Linked DNA regions of Homo sapiens. The protein of the gene in region 1 purifies or fractionates together with the protein of each later gene. This does not show direct contact. Each region holds a gene or a part of one and is shown in the gene's direction. Other genes may lie near its edges.

Evidence for each region. Proteins that work in one complex are often made in the same cells at the same time.
Region 2: the proteins of SMC3 (region 1) and IVNS1ABP purify together in Homo sapiens (affinity purification with mass spectrometry, with the first as the bait; one large-scale study listed by BioGRID). This does not show direct contact.
Region 3: the proteins of SMC3 (region 1) and RBM10 purify together in Homo sapiens (affinity purification with western blotting; one study listed by BioGRID). This does not show direct contact.
Region 4: the proteins of SMC3 (region 1) and ADAR purify together in Homo sapiens (affinity purification with western blotting; one study listed by BioGRID). This does not show direct contact.

The regions. Positions count from the first base shown.
Region 1 is NC_000010.11:110,573,358-110,578,240, forward strand, and holds part of SMC3 (structural maintenance of chromosomes protein 3), read left to right. Parts: intron 1-349; coding exon 350-388; intron 389-1,978; coding exon 1,979-2,046; intron 2,047-3,002; exon of another isoform or gene 3,003-3,104; intron 3,105-4,063; coding exon 4,064-4,135; intron 4,136-4,477; coding exon 4,478-4,557; intron 4,558-4,883. UniProt on the Homo sapiens protein: Central component of cohesin, a complex required for chromosome cohesion during the cell cycle. The cohesin complex may form a large proteinaceous ring within which sister chromatids can be trapped.
Region 2 is NC_000001.11:185,299,451-185,304,333, reverse strand, and holds part of IVNS1ABP (influenza virus NS1A-binding protein), read left to right. Parts: intron 1-2,770; coding exon 2,771-2,900; intron 2,901-3,137; coding exon 3,138-3,362; intron 3,363-3,775; coding exon 3,776-3,897; intron 3,898-3,990; coding exon 3,991-4,117; intron 4,118-4,203; coding exon 4,204-4,335; intron 4,336-4,450; coding exon 4,451-4,624; intron 4,625-4,883. UniProt on the Homo sapiens protein: Involved in many cell functions, including pre-mRNA splicing, the aryl hydrocarbon receptor (AHR) pathway, F-actin organization and protein ubiquitination.
Region 3 is NC_000023.11:47,175,631-47,180,513, forward strand, and holds part of RBM10 (RNA-binding protein 10), read left to right. Parts: intron 1-869; coding exon 870-956; intron 957-3,472; coding exon 3,473-3,533; intron 3,534-3,688; coding exon 3,689-3,865; intron 3,866-3,915; exon of another isoform or gene 3,916-4,151; intron 4,152-4,249; coding exon 4,250-4,410; intron 4,411-4,581; coding exon 4,582-4,679; intron 4,680-4,788; coding exon 4,789-4,876; intron 4,877-4,883. UniProt on the Homo sapiens protein: Binds to ssRNA containing the consensus sequence 5'-AGGUAA-3'. May be involved in post-transcriptional processing, most probably in mRNA splicing. Binds to RNA homopolymers, with a preference for poly(G) and poly(U) and little for poly(A).
Region 4 is NC_000001.11:154,597,394-154,602,276, reverse strand, and holds part of ADAR (double-stranded RNA-specific adenosine deaminase), read left to right. Parts: coding exon 1-1,236; intron 1,237-3,691; coding exon 3,692-3,875; intron 3,876-4,300; coding exon 4,301-4,449; intron 4,450-4,883. UniProt on the Homo sapiens protein: Catalyzes the hydrolytic deamination of adenosine to inosine in double-stranded RNA (dsRNA) referred to as A-to-I RNA editing.

The DNA.
Region 1 (4,883 bases):
ATTGTTAAACATATATAGTTAAAATAGAATTATATATCCATTGTAATATGATATAAGAGCCAGGTAGTATATTTAGCTATTCCTATTCATTTTAAACTATTGGGTAAGAGCAAACGGATCAACTGTGAAATATCTTTAAAGAAAAAACTATTAGAAGTCTGTACAAAAATTGAATTTATTTGGTGATTATAGTTGTTTTATTGGTTTCTTTTGTTCACTGTTTAATTTCAGATGTTAAGATGTATTAGAAAATTGGATTTTAAAAATATTGAGTATTTTTAAAAAGGTAAACAGTTTTAATTTTATTGGTTTTTATGTAAAATAACTTGTACTTTTTGAAATTTTCCAGTGGGCAGAAATGGATCTGGAAAAAGTAACTTTTTTTATGGTAGGTGTTGCTTTTTGAATTGTAAATATATTAAGACCTGGGTATCTTAGGGTAGATTATTAAAATCATTAATTTTCTGAGGTTATGTATTCATGAAACCCAAGAAATACTTTATATGGGGTTGCAGCTTAGTGTAGAGGGTTTAGAGTATACAGATCTGAATTCTGCTTTATACCCAGTGGCTGATTAGCTGTGTGAGAGTGGGCAAAACACGTAGCCTCTCAAATTTTTCTTTTCACTTTAAAAATGGAGATGTTTGGATGTTTGCCCTGTCTACCTTAGATGGTTTGTAAGAATGGAATGCAATAGTATGTATGAAAATGCTTTTTAAACTTGAATGTAATATATAAATGTTATAAATGCATATTTTAAACGTATGTAAATGCAGTAGAATAGTTGATAGTATTGTTTTGGAAAATTGTTCATCTTTCTTATTTCACCTTTTTGAAAACGTTTTCTAAACCAATCATCTTTGTAAAGGATGAAGAGGTATAAAAAACTTGAAACTGAACAGACTGTTGTCACTTTGAAGATAGTAAATAGAGCTTCAAAAATTCTCTCTAAATTGCATTTAAGTGTAAATAGCAATGCGTCTGTTAACAAATCCTTTGAGGAGAAAAACATTTTAACAAAATTAGACAGTTAAGGAGTAGGTTGAAAAATTTGAACTTTTTAGTTGGGTAATGCTTGAGGGAAAGGGGCATTTAGTGGACTGGCTTAGTAAGAACAAAGGTTCTATCTCTTCTGTGCACACGAATCTGAAAGGCACTCTCTAGCCTGTATATCCTATTGTGGTTGTAATTTGGCAATGATGAGAGAATGGACTGAAGTGGAAGTATTTCAGAATCTCCAGGGCAGTGTGAAGTCTCCTCACCTCGACCTGTGTCCACAGCACACACATTAATGCTTATGCACGTACTTGCTGATGTGGGCACCCCCACCACCTCCACACACACACAGTGCCAGAGGTCTCTTGGGTGGACTGGGACAAGAACAGCTGAGTAAAGAGTTCCACTTCCTAGGCAGGGTGGTCCAGTTAGGTACTCTATACCGAAGTAGGAACGGCCCCTTCTTACAGAGCTCGGTATAGTATAAGAAGTGTAGTATAAGTTGGGCATCTCAAACATTTCCCTGTATTTCCTTAGTTTTATTTCTTTTGGTAAAGTATCCACTTAAGCATATTCTCAAAATACATCCTATTTTGTTAAAAAGGATTTTAACTCATATCATTTATGTCTAGTGGGGAAAAAAGCAAATACAGTGTTAACCTAATCCAGTCAGTGAACACTTTGAGCCAGAGGTATACCTTAGTTTTGCTTGTCTGTTTTCATGTATTTCGGTGGTTTCTCTTTATTTCCTTACCTTAAATGTTTCAATGAAAACTTCTCAGTATTTTTCTTATATCATTTCCTACCTGATTAGTCTGATGTGCAGGCACATTTTCTGCATTTCCTTTTGTCCATATGAAACAGATAATTTATTTGCATTGTCTATTACCAGACACACTATGTTCTATTGAGGTGTGGGAAGTTATAAATAAGTTATAAACACTTTTTTAGGGTATACTAATAGTTGTTTTTGTATTTCCAGCAATTCAGTTTGTTCTCAGTGATGAGTTTAGTCATCTTCGTCCAGAACAGCGGTTGGCTTTATTGCATGTGAGTGAGACTGCTTTAAGACATTATTGATATTACATATATTTTAAAAATAAATTTTCCATGCTGGTTAAAAAAGCATTTGTTCAAGTTTCAGATTCTTTGTGAACAAGACACAATCTTTCTCATAAGTGTGTTACTCTGCTGTGAAATTTAGCCTAACATATTAATGCCAGATAAAAGCCCAATTTTTATACAGTGGTTTAGGAGAAAATTATAGGATTTGCCTATAGATGGATATGTCCTCCATATAAATGTCTTAAAGGAGACATGATATATATCATAAGTGTTTTATTCTGCTGTGAAATTTAGCCTAACATGTTAATGCCAGATAAAGGCCTAATTTTTATGTGATGGTTAGGAGAAAATTATAGGATTTGCCTATAGGTGGGTATGTCCTCCATGTACATTTCTTTAAGGATGTGATCTGCAAAGGCTTAAGAAGCAGGTTTGCTGAGGAGAAAGAAGAGTTTGAGGTTGCAGATTAGGAACTTTAAGATGCAGAACCAAAAATTAATTGGGAACATAGAGAAACAACCATTGCAAACTAAACAACATACAAGTTGTTTGTTGTTTTAGCCATATTTGTACTTAGATAGTAAACATCATTTTCCAGTATGAAAAACAGTAGAGATGTTCTGCAACTTACAGCGGGGTTATGTCCTAATAAACCTATCATAAACTGAAAATACCATAAGTCAAAAATGGACATTAGCCTACAGTTGAGCAAAATGATCTAACACAAAAGTCTGTTTTATAATAAAGTGTTGAATCTGTCATATAATTTATTGAATACTATGCTGAAAGTAAAAAACAGTGATTTTATGGATACTCAAATTATGGTTTCTACTGAATGTAGACTGCTATCACGTTGTCATTCAGCCATTTGTTGAACCATCGTAAGTTGGGGACCACCTGTATATTTACAGTAATGTGAGTTAGGATATTTTATTAAGTGGGTCCTTTTGTAATGCATAAGCACGATGATTGGGTTTTCGTGTTCATGTGAGTCATGCCTCCCTCAAACCTTGTTAGGACATTGGCACATTACCAATGTGATGTGGAAAAAAATATGAGTAATGGACTAAAGTAATTTTAGGATAGAAAATCATGAAAGACTACAATAAAACGATTAATCCTTCTGATTTGAATATTGTTTATTAAAGACTAGAAAATGAAATTCCTCAACATGTCTTAACAGTGTTTCTCACACATAGGAAATTGTTTTGTTTAGCTCTTGTCTGTCTTTTCCCCTTGTTTAGTTTGAATTTGTAGCCCAGTAATCAGAATTGATTTCCTTTAGAAAAATTCTTTTTAGGTTTTTCAGATTGGCATTAAAATAATTAATAACCTCTTTGGTACAGTTCTTCATTGTATTTACTACATAGTTTCTATAATCTGGAAGGTATCTGGACTTGGTACCATAGTTTTTGTGTCATAGATTGGTTTAAATGTGACACATGTTAAATGTGTATATTTCTATAATAGATTTAAAACTGTAGAATGTCTCAATTTTTCTTAAAAAACAGACTTTTGGTAATTATCCCATGATTTATTAGGATTTCTTTGCAGCATTAAAATGAGACTGTAAGAGAAAAGCCTCATGGTGTATTAGATATTAGCAAATAGGTAGAGTTAAATGTCCCCAGTCTTGCAGTCTAATAAAGTGGTCTGTAGAATCATATTTAAGGATATCTAACTTTGACATGTCTTGCATAGCTCTTATTTTTTATTTAGAATCAAAAGCTATTTGGTTGAGAAGTTTTGTTGTCCTAATCTAACGTCTCTGCTGTTTTGGCAAGAGGGATATATACTATAACTCTGGGGATATCCCCAAAGTATGTATCCCTCTTGCCAAAAGAGCAGAGACGTTAGATTAGTGTGTGTGTGTATATATGAATCTAGCAGAAATTTTTCTCCATTGAATCAGACTTGTTATTATGCCCTAGACTTTAAGAATCCTTTAAAGGATATGAATATACAACTTAAATGGCAAATTTCTCACTTCTTTCATTTTTAGGAAGGTACTGGTCCTCGTGTTATTTCTGCTTTTGTGGAGATTATTTTTGATAATTCAGACAACCGGTTACCAGTAAGTAACTTTTTTTTTAAAGTAATGTTGAGAATTTAATTGGTTTAGCTGATTTTCTTCATACTTTGAAACTTTTTAAGCTTTTATAATTTGTTATAATTACAGTTTATATACTGATTTTATCTTAAAATGACAATGAATACTCTGTTAACAAATGGGAATGTACAAACTGTTGTGAAAAGTGTCTTGGTTAAGAGTATTGAGTATTTGTAGTATTATTTTTAGTGAGATAATTGAAATTTTAAAATAAATACTTATGGGCAAGGACTTTAAAATGACCTTATTTAAAAAGTTTTCTCCTTTACTATTAAATTAACTGTGGGCTTTTACATTTTTTCTTAGATCGATAAAGAGGAAGTTTCACTTCGAAGAGTTATTGGTGCCAAAAAGGATCAGTATTTCTTAGACAAGAAGATGGTCACGTAAGCATTTTTCTTTTTTTTAAAAAAACTGAATATGTACTTAAATAGAGATGGGGTATTGCTGTGTTGGCCAGGTTGGTCTCGAACTCTTGGCCTCAAATGATCCACCTCGGCTTCCTAAAGTGCTAGGATTACAGACATGAGCCACCACGCCCAGCCAGCATTTTTCTTTTTCTCAATACGGAGTCTTGCTCTGTCGCCCAGGCTGGAGTGCAGTGGCGCAGTCTCGGCTCACTGCAACCTCCACCTCCCGGGTTCAAGCTATTCTGCTGCCTCAGCCTTCTGAGTAGCTGGGATTGCAGGCAGTCACCACCACACCCGGCTAC
Region 2 (4,883 bases), on another chromosome or scaffold:
ATTTTAAAAGTACATTTTCAACATGCAGAGGTTGAGTGCCCAATAAGTGGCAGGCCATAATGTTCGGTATGGCAACACAAAAATGTGTAAGAGACAGTTTCTGCTTGTAGGACCTTCTAAGAGTGGGCAAAACAATACAGGCTTATAAGAGGTAGCTACGAAAGGCCTAAAGGAGAGGACACAGTGAGACAGGAGAGAAGCCAGGGATATTTCACACAAGAGGTAACTTTTGAGCAGTGTTAGGATTTAGAGGAGTCTGCATAGCAGATAAAGGGAGAGGTGTTAGCAAAGAGTATCTGTGAGGATGATACTCTTGGAATTGCAGGTCATAAGACTGGGAAAGTAGGTAAATGCTCCCTGAATGGGGCTTATACTTTATCCTATAGGCAGTGGGAAGCCTTAGGTAAGAATACAGTGATACGAAAGTTTTGCATTCACTTTAGTAATGGTGAAAAACTGGGGAACAGTCTATTAGGTGGCAGTCTTTGGGCTGGAATATCCCAACTGATTTCTGGTTTTATTTTCTAAAATTGTTGCCTTGGACCCTTCCTATTTTTATAACCAGACACAGAAAATCAATAAAAGTTTGAGCCCAGTTTATAGACTATTGCCAGCAGTAGTTCAGGTTTTAAAAAAATGATGAGGGATTAATCTAGGGGCATGAAGGAGAAAGGATAGATTTTTTATTTATGTCTATATATAAATAGACATTTATATTTACAAAGGTTGACTTAGCAGGCCTTAGTGATTGCTTAGCAAGATTAGGGAAAAGAAAGAATTTGAGAATAAGTGGGATTCTGACATGTGTGACTCATTAGAATGTGATGCCATGAATAGAGATCATGAAGAGGATGCGAGGGACACATGTTAGACTTCAGGAATAGAAAAAGGAGGTTGAGAAGAAGCCATTAGAAAAGTCAGAGGACAATAAGAATCTAATCATGTTGTAAAAGCTACCTAAGGTAGGAGAAGAAAGTTTGAAGGAGGACTAAACACTGTCAAGTTCTCTGGGAGGTCATGTAAAATAAGGTTTAGGGATATATTCTTTACATATAAAGGATTTAATCAGCATTTCTATATTAGGCTTGTTATTAGGCATTGCTTTTGGGCCTTTCTCTTTCACAGTCATTTTCTCTTAATTATAGTTTGTACATTAGAACAGTTTTTTTACTTCAGTACAGCCTCAATGTAAGCATCATCCATTTGTGATATTTGGATCCCTTCTTCCCATAGGTTGGGATGAGGTTTTATGTACCTTGTAATTCATAATAATAGATAAGGTTAGATAAGTCTAACCTTATTTTTTATTCTTAATATTCATAGTATAAAAGTGATATGAAAGATGCATTCACAACTTTAGTAACAGTGGAAAACAGCCTGTCATAGTGTAAATCTGTTTTATAGTATGACATAACTTGTCATAGTATAAAAAGGATGGGGTTTATCTTCATAATTCCTAATCTTTATTTTAGTTGTATTGCCTTGGGCAATGCATATCTTCTTGAGTTTCAATATTTTTATCTATAAAATGGGTAGATAATATCACCCTCACTGGACTAAAAGAGATGATGTAAATAAAGTACCTAGTAATACCTAGGTACATAGTAAACATCTAAGTGGAATTTAATCATAACCATTGATAATGATACATTCCCTGCCTTTTCTCAAAATAGCCTACGTATGTTGTAACCACACTCAGGCCTAACTTTTGATATAGCTTTTTCTTAATAGCTTCAAGTAGCTAGCAAAATCTTTTTCTCAATTACTTGTTATATGGCTTTTTGCTTCCACTAGCAACAGAAATTTCCATTAGAAATTTTACCTATCCATGTGTTCTGGCCATCTGGACCAGCACAAGTGGGATGAGCAAACTAGGCCAGGTGCTGAAGTTGCTACCTGTTCATTTGGCAGTTCCTCTCAGAGTAGTCTTTACTCTTCCAATTCCATATGATCATATCCTTTGGAAGTGGCAAAGGCTAAAGTAATTGGAAGGAAGCCATCAAGGAAAACTCATACATGAGAACACATGTGTAAAGTAGTTCTCTTACAATCATTTGGAAATTGGCAGCTTTGTTCATTTCTCCCTCTTTAGTATTCCTGTATATTCTACTTTTGTGAATATTTGGTTGTTTTTAGTAATGTTTCATTTCTGATTACTATTTTCTTGTGTTTTGATGTAATTTTGTCTAGAAAACCACTCTATAATACCTATAAGGTAATCCTAAAGAAATATTCTTTAAGTGTTTCTTGTAATTGCCACTTTTTTCCTGTCAAGTACTTTCAGAGAAACTGGATGAATCTATATCTGCTTACGTTTTGCTGGCATTGTATGAAGGATACCTGTACATATGATTTAGTTAGGTTTGACAATTTCATGAAAATAGTGGGTTAAATGTATTCTCTGTTAATTCACACTATTTTAAATTTATAGCATTCTTTTAAAAGATTCTATACTTAATATAAAAATAATTATAGATTGGTTTTTTCTTCTGCTGAGGTCTTGATTTGCAACATGTTTTTCAAATTGTTAAAACTGAGCTTTTTCTTACCTAGGCTAATTGTGTAGGCGTAGTTGTCTCATCATTGAGTGGAGATGGAAGTATGCCAGTAATTTGTGTCATTTGGAAAGTGTTGGCTTGAGTTAAAGTTAGTGTCCTATAAATGTCATATATAGGTGAAGGATACTCAGTGTTGTGGAATAGCTCAGGAACAAAGGTACATCAGATGTGGTCTTTGGCTAGGTTTCTGTAGCTACCTTTTGATTTTGCAGAAAAAGCCACCACGTGAGAATGGCCATAAGCAGATAAGTAGCAGTTCAACTGGATGTCTCTCTTCTCCAAATGCTACAGTACAAAGCCCTAAGCATGAGTGGAAAATCGTTGCTTCAGAAAAGACTTCAAGTAAGTATATGACACTTGCCAGATTGTTTTCAGCTTACCTATTTTTAAGAAGGAGTGTTGCCAATTTAATACCTCTTAAATTGACTACTCGAGGAAAAAACTCAGAAGCAATTAAATTTGGAAAACGAGAGCAGATTGTTCCAGTCTGGGATGTGGAGACTGGAGTCCAATTCAGGATCATATACACAAACCAAAAGTAATAATTACATCTTAAACATGGAACTCTTGTGCTTACAGATAACACTTACTTGTGCCTGGCTGTGCTGGATGGTATATTCTGTGTCATTTTTCTTCATGGGAGAAACAGCCCACAGAGCTCACCAACAAGTACTCCAAAACTAAGTAAGAGTTTAAGCTTTGAGATGCAACAAGATGAGCTAATCGAAAAGCCCATGTCTCCTATGCAGTACGCACGATCTGGTCTGGGAACAGCAGAGATGAATGGCAAACTCATAGCTGCAGGTAAGAACAGAAGCATTCAACTGGCTAAGCATGTAGATGGGCATTTTTGTGACATGCAAACTTTCAAAGAGAGGGTTTAATATGCCATCTTTCACGGCAATCCAATAAGATAGGGAAATAACAATACTATTGAATATGGCTAACCTTCAGTTCAATGTCTGTATCTAATTTTTAAAAAAATTATGTCATGGCTAAATTTTTCTAATATTCAAGCCAAGACTAAGCAGTTTATTTGTACTGATAATGCGATTTTTCAGCTATTACAAGCACTTAGTTAAAAGATCAACTAAGGCATCCTTAAAAAGTTTTAATACTTTTTCTCATTGTGCAGATTTCTTAAACTTACAGGACTGGAAACCGTGGTCCAGTTTAATATTTTAAACATAAATCTTTATGGTTTTATTTTTTACCAGGTGGCTATAACAGAGAGGAATGTCTTCGAACAGTCGAATGCTATAATCCACATACAGATCACTGGTCCTTTCTTGCTCCCATGAGAACACCAAGAGCCCGATTTCAAATGGCTGTACTCATGGTAAGCGCATTATGTTGCAGGAGCAACCCCTATTTAGCTTTTTCCTCGTAACTTCAGGATGTTAGAAATTCTCATCTCTCACTTTTGGCATAGGGCCAGCTCTATGTGGTAGGTGGATCAAATGGCCACTCAGATGACCTGAGTTGTGGAGAGATGTATGATTCAAACATAGATGACTGGATTCCTGTTCCAGAATTGAGAACTAACCGTTGTAATGCAGGTAATAATAGTTTTCTCCTGAGATATCCAGTATTTAAATATGATAATTAAATTATCAATATGTAACTTTATTTTATACTTACATAGGAGTGTGTGCTCTGAATGGAAAGTTATACATCGTTGGTGGCTCTGATCCATATGGTCAAAAAGGACTGAAAAATTGTGATGTATTTGATCCTGTAACAAAGTTGTGGACAAGCTGTGCCCCTCTTAACATTCGTAAGTTGATTTTTTTTCCTTTTTTTTTTTAAAGACCTTCAAATCAACAGTATGTGTAGTATACACTTAGAGTCTGGGAGATGTAGCAATAATCTTGACTTGACTTTTCTTGTAGGGAGACACCAGTCTGCAGTCTGTGAGCTTGGTGGTTATTTGTACATAATCGGAGGTGCAGAATCTTGGAATTGTCTGAACACAGTAGAACGATACAATCCTGAAAATAATACCTGGACTTTAATTGCACCCATGAATGTGGCTAGGCGAGGAGCTGGAGTGGCTGTTCTTAATGGTGAGTGTTGGGATTTGGAGAGGTGAAGAGTAGATAGTGGCAAGACTTTGTTCTAAAACTCTGAGAGAAAAGGCCAATGACTATAGTTGTACAGTTAAGAATTCAGAAGCAGTCATCTCTTTTGATGCAATGGAGATTAGGGTGATTTGTCCTTTAGAAATATATTTTCTAATCAAAGACTTATAATACTTGATATATAACTTAATTCACCAGTCTTTTGATGGGTGCACTGAGTGAATTTCCAAGTCATTTTCTTCTA
Region 3 (4,883 bases), on another chromosome or scaffold:
AGTATGATAGTTTTATCGACACCCTGGCCTCACTTCGCCGCCCCTACCCTTCCTATCACATCTCCACACTCGCAGGAGGCACCACCTCAGGCAGCTCTGTCTTCTCGGCAAGGACCTGTGCACAGTCAGCCCTGGGGGGAGCCTGTCCCCCAAGCCTGGCACGGGATCCCAACTCAGCAGCTTTGGGACCTCCGAGACCCAAAGATCTGCCTGGTCACCCACCCCTGCCCAGATCCCTGGTGTAGGGCACTGGAGAGCAGTTTCAGGGGAGGAAGGGGCAGAGGTGGTAGAATGGGGGATCCCGGCAGAGGCAGCCCTGGGGCCGTCTCCTCGGGGTTGGTAGGCTAGTGCCATGGGCCCAGGACCCAGCCATCCATGGGAAGACGGCCTCATGGCAGAAACTTCCATCTGTTCGAAATGGCTCTTTCTTTTTCCCCTTCTCCAGCACTAGCGCACCTGCGCTCTCTTTCTCTTTTTCTCCCCTCTCCCTCCCCCTCCCTGTCTCCCCTCACCCCCCAAGTGTAGCCTGTGTAGTCCTGGCCCTGGGTGTGGCCTGGCAGTGTCAGGGCCGAGTGGGGGTTTCTCCCCACTGTCCGGCAAGCGTCGGTCAGCCGAACACTGTGTGCCTGGTGGTGTGTGTTCACATGTGTGCGTGCGTGTGCCCGGCAGAGCAGCAAACAGCTGCGCCCGAGAGCTGTGGCGCTTTCCCTCCCTACCTCCCTTCTTCCCTCCATCCGCTCTCCGACCTCCCTCCGTTCCCTGTCCCTCATCCATCCAGCTGAAGGGCTCGCTCACTCTCTTCTCCTATGCTGAAACGGTGCGTGGGGCACTGCTGCCTGGACCTCACTGTGCTCTGCTTTTTCCCGCAGCACTCCCTCAACATCCTGGGCCAGAAGGTGTCGATGCACTACAGTGACCCCAAGCCCAAGATCAATGAGGACTGGCTGTGCAATAAGGTACAGGGGCGGTGGGCAGCAGTTGTCATGGACAGAGACAGCAACAGCAGTGGCGGCGATCTCTCCCTTCCTCTCCCGCTCTTTCTCCCTCCATCTCTCCCCCTCCCCCAATCTCTCCTCTCCCTCTGTCTCTCTCTCTCTCTCTCTCTCTCTCTCTCATTCTCTATCCCTTGCTAGCTCAGCTTGAGTAGTCACCATTCCTAGCCAGCCATATACAAATGTGTAGTGAGCGTTCACTTGGTGCAGGCTCTGTCCTCCTAAAATGCAGTCTTGCCTGGAGTTCCAGTAGACTTTAAGGAAATATATACGTGGATGATGAATTAGTGACAGTGTAGACTTGAAGTGGTGGTGTGGAGAATGTGGGCTTCAGAGCCAGACTGGCTGAAATGAGACTATCCCAGATCGGCCTTGATTTTGGCCAAGGTGCTTAGCCTCTCTTTGCCTCACTTTCCCCATCTCTAAAATGTGAATATTAATGACACCTCTCCCAAAAGGTGGTTGGGAGGATTCAGCTGTGTTAATGAGAGAGTAACACTCAGAACAGTGCCTGGCCCACATTTAACACAGTCGAATTGTTAACTGTAATCATGAAAGAAAAGCACAGAGCGTTCTGAGAGCCCATAGCAGGTAGCTCAAGCCTGAAGGCCACTCTGACCAGGCCAAGTCAAACCTGAAACTGGAGGCTGTGGTTTTGTAGTCACCTCTGTCTTCCCTGAGGGGAAGCTGAGGCTCAGAGAGGTGGAACCATGGGTGAACCTTTAGCTGTGCCCTGTGCCTTGCTCCTGATCACAGGGACTTGGATGCCACAGTGGCTTCAGGTCTGCCCTGGGGCCAGCATTGTGATTCCACAGTTTGTAGAGGCCCCAACCCTCTCCCCAGGAAGTACTCTGCCTAGTCAGGGAGAGTGGTGCATCTGTTTTAAAAAAAAAAGTCCCATCAGAGGATTGGTGCTTAACATTTCTGGAGAGATAAAGACAAAGTGACAGTGGAACTCCTTCCTGTGTTTCCAGATAGCCTCAAAACCAGGGAATTCTCTTTTTTTTTTTTTTGAGACAGGATCTGGCTCTGTCGCCCAGGCTGGAGTGCAGCAATCTGGGCTCACTGCAACCTCTGTCTCCAGCGCTCAAGCCATCAGCCTCCAGAGTAGCTGGGACCACAGGCGCATGCCACCACACCCACTAATTTTTGCCTTTTTATTTTTATTTTTTTTGGTAGAGACAGGGTTTCGTCATGTTTGCCAGGCTGGTCTTGAACTCCTGAGCTCAAGCAGTCCTCACGCCTCAGCCTCCCAAAGTGCTGGGATTACAGGCGTGAGCCACCACGCCCAGCCCAAAACCAGGGAATTCTCTTGAACTCCTTCCCCTCCCCTGCATCCTGTTGGCCACCAGGTCCTGTCACTTCCATCACAGAAACGCCACCTTCCCTCCCTCGCCATTCCCGCTGCTCATGCCAATCGTCACGCTCTCACCCACTCACTGTGGAGCCCTCTCTGGTATGCTGGCCTCTTGTCCTCTTTCTCCCACGCCCTCACCTGGAACATTCCTCAAAACCACCTCTGACTACCCACGCCTCTCCTCCTCTGCTTAACCAGCCCCAGCTCAGCTTAAGCATAAGATCCTCCATTACCTAACTGGCTTCCTTCCCCGGCCTTGGCTTTTGCTTCTCCCCTTACTCTCCCACACCAGTTTCGGAAAGTCCATTGTTCCCTCCGATAACAATCCCTCCCCAGCAAGGCTTAACAAAATGAAACTTCTGGGCATCCCAGGTCAAACCTCCCTGCTTCTGTGCAGGGACTGTCCCTGCCGAGTAAATGGCACCCCACCCCCAGCCCATTTCCCTCCCCGAGCCCCTGCTGGATGGTCCATGCAGACCGACCTGCCCCTCTTCATGCTGCATCTGCCCCTGTGCTATTAGGCCATGAGGGCAGAGACCATGTTCTGGCCATGTGCAGCAGGGCCTGGCCCAGGAGTGGTGCTTAGTACCTGAGTCTGGAACAGAGATGGAGTGTGGTAGAAGCTGGGTCTCCAGATGCTGGAACATTCAAGGAAAATTTCTCAAGCGTAGCAGGATCCAACCCAGTCCTAGAGCTAAGAGGAGGGGTGCGGGTCTGGCTACTGACTTCTAGGGCTGAAACACTGAAAGGTTTCTGAATAGAGGAGCAAGTTTCAGGGAGAGGAACCTAATAAAGGGATTGAATACCTGAGGCGGGGAACAGTCCTGGGAGTTGGTGGCCTTAAGAAGGCAGAGGAAGGAGAGGAGGGAGTTGTTGTACCAAATGGGGGAGTTGTTTATTCCTGAGCTGAGTGGGTTGGCACAGAGGACAAATGAGAGTCTGGAAAGGGAAGATGCACAGTACTGAGAACAACATCAGAAGGTTCAGAAGGCACCTGCCACCATTGCCTAGGGGCTTTCCTTCCTGGGGCACTGCGGGGTCCCTGGGAGATCTCTTCATCCAAGTTTGGAGGGTGCAGTGGGAAATCCCTGCTCCCTCTGACGGCCTGGCCTGTGCCTCACAGTGTGGCGTCCAGAACTTCAAACGCCGAGAGAAGTGCTTCAAATGTGGCGTGCCCAAGTCAGGTGAGGCCCACCTACCTCTCGTGCTCTCCAGGGCGGAGCGGTTGGGGAGAAGGGAAGGGTGAGGGGTCTGTGCTCAGGGCTTGGTATAGGGAGGAGGGTGACCAGTCGTGGAGCCTTCCCCTTATCACCAGCCTGTCTCCCACTGCCCCTGACAGAGGCAGAGCAGAAGCTGCCCCTCGGCACGAGGCTGGATCAGCAGACACTGCCACTGGGTGGCCGGGAGCTGAGCCAGGGCCTGCTTCCCCTGCCGCAGCCCTACCAGGCCCAGGGAGTCCTGGCCTCCCAAGCCCTGTCACAGGGCTCGGAGCCAAGCTCAGAGAACGCCAATGACAGTGAGTCAGTTGTTCCTTCTTCCTCTGTGCCCTAGGGTGTCGGGCTGGGCTCACCAAGACCAGAGAAATGGCAGTGAGCAGGACCTCATCCTCATGGAATCTCCACTTGGTGCGGGGATAGACATTTGATGTAGGGAGAACAGGGGGAGTGGCAACATCCCACCTGACTTTGGGGGTGTGTCGGGAAGGTTCTCAGCAGACAGGCAGCCAGGCTGGCACCTGGACCGCCAAGCAGAGTTGATCCTGGAGGAAGCAGTGAGGGAAGCGGCAGTTGCAAAGGCACGGAGTGAGTGGGGGCAGAGGAAAGGGAGCAGTGGGGGCATTGAAGGGCAGGGCTGGCAAGAGTGCCAGGGGTGTCCTCTAACATTGGGCCCCTTCCCACAGCCATCATTTTGCGCAACCTGAACCCACACAGCACCATGGATTCCATCCTGGGGGCCCTGGCACCCTACGCGGTGCTGTCCTCCTCCAACGTGCGCGTCATAAAGGACAAGCAGACCCAACTGAACCGCGGCTTTGCCTTCATCCAGCTCTCCACCATCGTGGTGAGGGCGGCACAGTTGGGGGCCGGGCAGCCAGGGTCCCGGCCCCCGGGGTGGAGACGAGGGTCCTTTTCCCCAGCCTCCCACCGCGGCTGCCAGCCTGGAAATCGGGCAATGGAGCCGGGGGCCTCCCCGGGCCTGACCCTTCTGTCCCTGCCTCCCCTCCTCCCACAGGAGGCAGCCCAGCTGCTGCAGATCCTGCAGGCCCTGCACCCACCACTCACTATCGACGGCAAGACCATCAATGTTGAGTTTGCCAAGGGTTCTAAGAGGTCAGGGCCCCACCTGTGTGCCTTCCCACCCTTCCCCTCCCCACCCTCCCACTCCCCCCTACCGCTTGGGGCCTCCTATCTCACTCCCAGTCTCTAACATCCTCCTCAGGGACATGGCCTCCAATGAAGGCAGTCGCATCAGTGCTGCCTCTGTGGCCAGCACTGCCATTGCTGCGGCCCAGTGGGCCATCTCACAGGTACTCA
Region 4 (4,883 bases), on another chromosome or scaffold:
TGTTGATTGCCTTTCCTCACATTTCCAGGAACTGAGTATCTACCAAGATCAGGAACAAAGGATCTTAAAGTTCCTGGAAGAGCTTGGGGAAGGGAAGGCCACCACAGCACATGATCTGTCTGGGAAACTTGGGACTCCGAAGAAAGAAATCAATCGAGTTTTATACTCCCTGGCAAAGAAGGGCAAGCTACAGAAAGAGGCAGGAACACCCCCTTTGTGGAAAATCGCGGTCTCCACTCAGGCTTGGAACCAGCACAGCGGAGTGGTAAGACCAGACGGTCATAGCCAAGGAGCCCCAAACTCAGACCCGAGTTTGGAACCGGAAGACAGAAACTCCACATCTGTCTCAGAAGATCTTCTTGAGCCTTTTATTGCAGTCTCAGCTCAGGCTTGGAACCAGCACAGCGGAGTGGTAAGACCAGACAGTCATAGCCAAGGATCCCCAAACTCAGACCCAGGTTTGGAACCTGAAGACAGCAACTCCACATCTGCCTTGGAAGATCCTCTTGAGTTTTTAGACATGGCCGAGATCAAGGAGAAAATCTGCGACTATCTCTTCAATGTGTCTGACTCCTCTGCCCTGAATTTGGCTAAAAATATTGGCCTTACCAAGGCCCGAGATATAAATGCTGTGCTAATTGACATGGAAAGGCAGGGGGATGTCTATAGACAAGGGACAACCCCTCCCATATGGCATTTGACAGACAAGAAGCGAGAGAGGATGCAAATCAAGAGAAATACGAACAGTGTTCCTGAAACCGCTCCAGCTGCAATCCCTGAGACCAAAAGAAACGCAGAGTTCCTCACCTGTAATATACCCACATCAAATGCCTCAAATAACATGGTAACCACAGAAAAAGTGGAGAATGGGCAGGAACCTGTCATAAAGTTAGAAAACAGGCAAGAGGCCAGACCAGAACCAGCAAGACTGAAACCACCTGTTCATTACAATGGCCCCTCAAAAGCAGGGTATGTTGACTTTGAAAATGGCCAGTGGGCCACAGATGACATCCCAGATGACTTGAATAGTATCCGCGCAGCACCAGGTGAGTTTCGAGCCATCATGGAGATGCCCTCCTTCTACAGTCATGGCTTGCCACGGTGTTCACCCTACAAGAAACTGACAGAGTGCCAGCTGAAGAACCCCATCAGCGGGCTGTTAGAATATGCCCAGTTCGCTAGTCAAACCTGTGAGTTCAACATGATAGAGCAGAGTGGACCACCCCATGAACCTCGGTAAGAGACCACCCAGGAACTGTACCTAGGGTTGGGGTCAGGTGCTTTTGCTCCTGACGCAGTCTTGGCTGATTTGTGAGCAGTGCTGTTTGGTGGCGCCTATCTTTTCCTCCTTCCCTTCTGCCTTTTAGCTAAATTCCCCTTGATTGGCCCTTTCTCCAGATATTGAGCAGGGAATATAGACCTTGGACCAGCCAGAATCTTGGCTGAACAAGGGGGAGGTTGACTCTGTTGGCTGTAATGAAGCTTCTTTAGAAATGATTGGTTTTGGCCGTACGCGGTGGCTCATGCCTGTAATCCCAGCACTTTTTGAGGCCGAGGCAGGCATATCACGAGGTCAGGAGTTTGAGACCAGCCTGGCCAACATGGTGAAACCCTGTCTCTACTAAAAATACAAAAATTAGCTGGGCGTGGTGGCGTGCACCTGTAGTCCCAGCTACTCAGGAAGCTGAGACAGGAGAATCACTTGAACCCAGGAGGCAGAGGTTGCAGTGAACTGAGATTGCGCCACTGCACTCCAGCCTGGGCCACAGAGCAAGACTCCATCTCAAAAAAAAAAAAGAAAGAAATGATTGGTCTTGGGGGCCGGGGCGGTGGCTTACGACTGTAATCCCAGCACTTTGGGAGGCCAAGGCAGGCAGATCATGAGGTGAGGAATTCGAGACCAGCCTGGCCAACATGGTGAAACCCCATCTCTACTAAAAATACAAAAATTAGCTGGGGGTGGTGGTGCTTGCCTGTAATCCCAGCTACTCGGGAGGCTGAGGCAGGAGAATCACTTGAACCCAGGAGGTGGAGGTTGTAGTGAGCCGAGATTGGCGCCACTGCACTCCAGCCTGGGCGACAGAGTGAGACTCCATCTTGGAAAAAGAAAGAAAAAAGAAAAACATGATTGATCTCCATGCATCAATATCATGCCTGCCTCCTAAGGCAGAGGTAATGAAGACTTAATTCCCTTCTGTAGGCCTTCCCCTCCTCCCTAAGCCGTTTTCTGAGAGAGGTGCAGGAGCAGGTGGGTTGGGGCAGGCTGCATACACAGTGGGGGTGGGTTGTGCTGCTAAGCAGCAGCAGGTCCACAATCCCCCCTCTGCATAGCTCCTGGGGGGAAAGGATGGAGGAGCGTGTGCACGGCTGCCTGCCTGTTGAAGGTGGTGGTTCTAATTTTATAAACCTCCTCTGCACAGATGGGTAGGCTAGCACTTGCTGCCACTCCTGAGCTGTGAAGTCAGCCTTTACCTCACTCAGATAGCTGGTCAGGCCCTGCACTGTAGGTCCTAATAGGCCAGTGGACAGATTGAGGAAAACAGGAGCTTCTGAAGGGCATAACAGAGAGCAAAACCACTGAAGCTGAGTGGCTGCAGCTGCAGCCAGGGAAAGAGCCAGTAGGATGGGGGAGAATTCCACTGACCTTTATGTTTACCTAGCCTGGTTTCTAGGGGTGTAGATTCCTGGCTAGGGCCCTTATTCCTTGTCTTGACTGTCTTCATGACACCAATTTGGCATTTCAGGAGAGCGGTTAAGAAAAGGAGTTGTGTCTGTCCAAAAGCTGGCAAGGCCAGAGCTGGATTGTTTGGGGTAGAGACTGGATGGCCGTCATTCTCTTTTGCCTCCATCCCTCCTCCCCAGAGTTGGAGGAAAGCAGTGGATTTTGTGGTTAGTCATTCTTTGGACTCACACTAAAAGAAACATTGGTGCCATGTTCAAATATATCAGAAGACCTAGGAAATAAGAAATTTGACCTACTTTTCTAAATGAAATCCCAGACTGAGCAAAGAGCTCACCACATTTGAAAGCTTGAACAAAGGGGGCCTAGGCTAAGTCCAGAGGCCTAGAACAAATGCTTTTTTATTTTCTACATAACAAGGGGAAATTCCTTGTTATGTAGAAAATAGCTGGAGACAAATGGTGCTATAGAGTGACTCATAACAAACTACGGTGATATAGGTCTAGGGACAAAAGCAGGCCACTGATAAGTGGCAGATGCCTGATCCCCCTAGGTAGTGGGGAGTGTGAGACTGGGTTATAAGAAGCCTTCACTATCTTTTAGGACCCTCCCTTGAGGAGGCCAGTCTACCACAATTGCTTTAGAATGAAGGTCTTTTGGTTGCTCACAAGACTATAATGGTAATTTTTGGCTCATCATTTTTGTGTGTGTGGGTTTTATCTTAATTCATTGTTAAAGAGATAGTGGGTTTCCCCTGAGCTAGTTTCCTATCATCTGTGCCTATGTTTGCTTCACTGAGCTATGGGGAAAGAGTCACTGGCTGCTTTGTTTACAAAAAGAAAGGACAGGCTGAGCCTTAAGGAGTAGGAAGGAGTTCCTTGGCCTACCCTTCATCTCCACAAGTGAAAAGCCCCTTAGCGTAGCAGAAAATTCCAGGTTGAAGGTCTCTTTGGAGAAGGCAGAAGGAGTGACCTAGACTCCTGTTCACACATCTAATCACTTTCCGTCAAGATTTAAATTCCAGGTTGTCATCAATGGCCGAGAGTTTCCCCCAGCTGAAGCTGGAAGCAAGAAAGTGGCCAAGCAGGATGCAGCTATGAAAGCCATGACAATTCTGCTAGAGGAAGCCAAAGCCAAGGACAGTGGAAAATCAGAAGAATCATCCCACTATTCCACAGAGAAAGAATCAGAGAAGGTAGGTGTCCTCCTGCCATCTGGGAGGATCAGTTCCCTGTCAGTGTCTGGATTGTAACTGACTCCCTTGAGGCAATCCCAGCCTAAACAACTGACACCATCTCGGAGTCAGCTTCCCACTCTTCCCTCTACCCTATCTCGCCAGCCCACCTTTCCTCCTCTCATACCCAGCTCCTCTGTCTGCTCCTGTCCCAACATAATTGGATTTACAGAATTTCGGACTTGAAAGAGACCTGAAAGTTTATTGAGGCCAATCTCCTCTCTTGGAAGATGCGGAATGAGAGCTCCAGCAGCCCCTTTAACTTTGGGAAGCCAACCCCTTGACAGGTGGTGGGAATAAAGTCCCCCATCCCCATCCCTTCTTCTGTGATGGACTAACCAGTGTTTTCTTAGTTTTGTTTTCTTCTTGTCTCTCATTTTCTCTAGACTGCAGAGTCCCAGACCCCCACCCCTTCAGCCACATCCTTCTTTTCTGGGAAGAGCCCCGTCACCACACTGCTTGAGTGTATGCACAAATTGGGGAACTCCTGCGAATTCCGTCTCCTGTCCAAAGAAGGCCCTGCCCATGAACCCAAGTATGTCCTACGTGTCCTCTGTCCAGCTGAGGTTTTCTCAGAAAGAAAAAGAGACACATTTTCTTCCTTGCCTCCTCAGGGATGGCAGATTGACCAATTTCTCCTGTTTCAAAATGGGGAAAGGAGGGCTCTGAGGTCCTGGTTGCTGCTTGTGAGGCAGACAATTAGGGATTAGGAATTCAAAGGGAATTCCTGGCCCACCCTCTATCTCCTCTATAAGCACTAGGGAGGTTCACGGCTTGGAGGTCACTCACTGTTGGTGGGACAGAAAGGTACAGGACCTGAGAAGCTCTCTGCCTGTGGGTCTATAGACTCACATGTTCAAGAGAAGTGTTCCTGGAAGAGGTGAAACTAGGTTGATGCTTAAATGTTGAAAGGGGTCAGCCAGGCTAAGAGACACTGGCTGTTCAAGGCAGAAGTGACTGCATGAGATG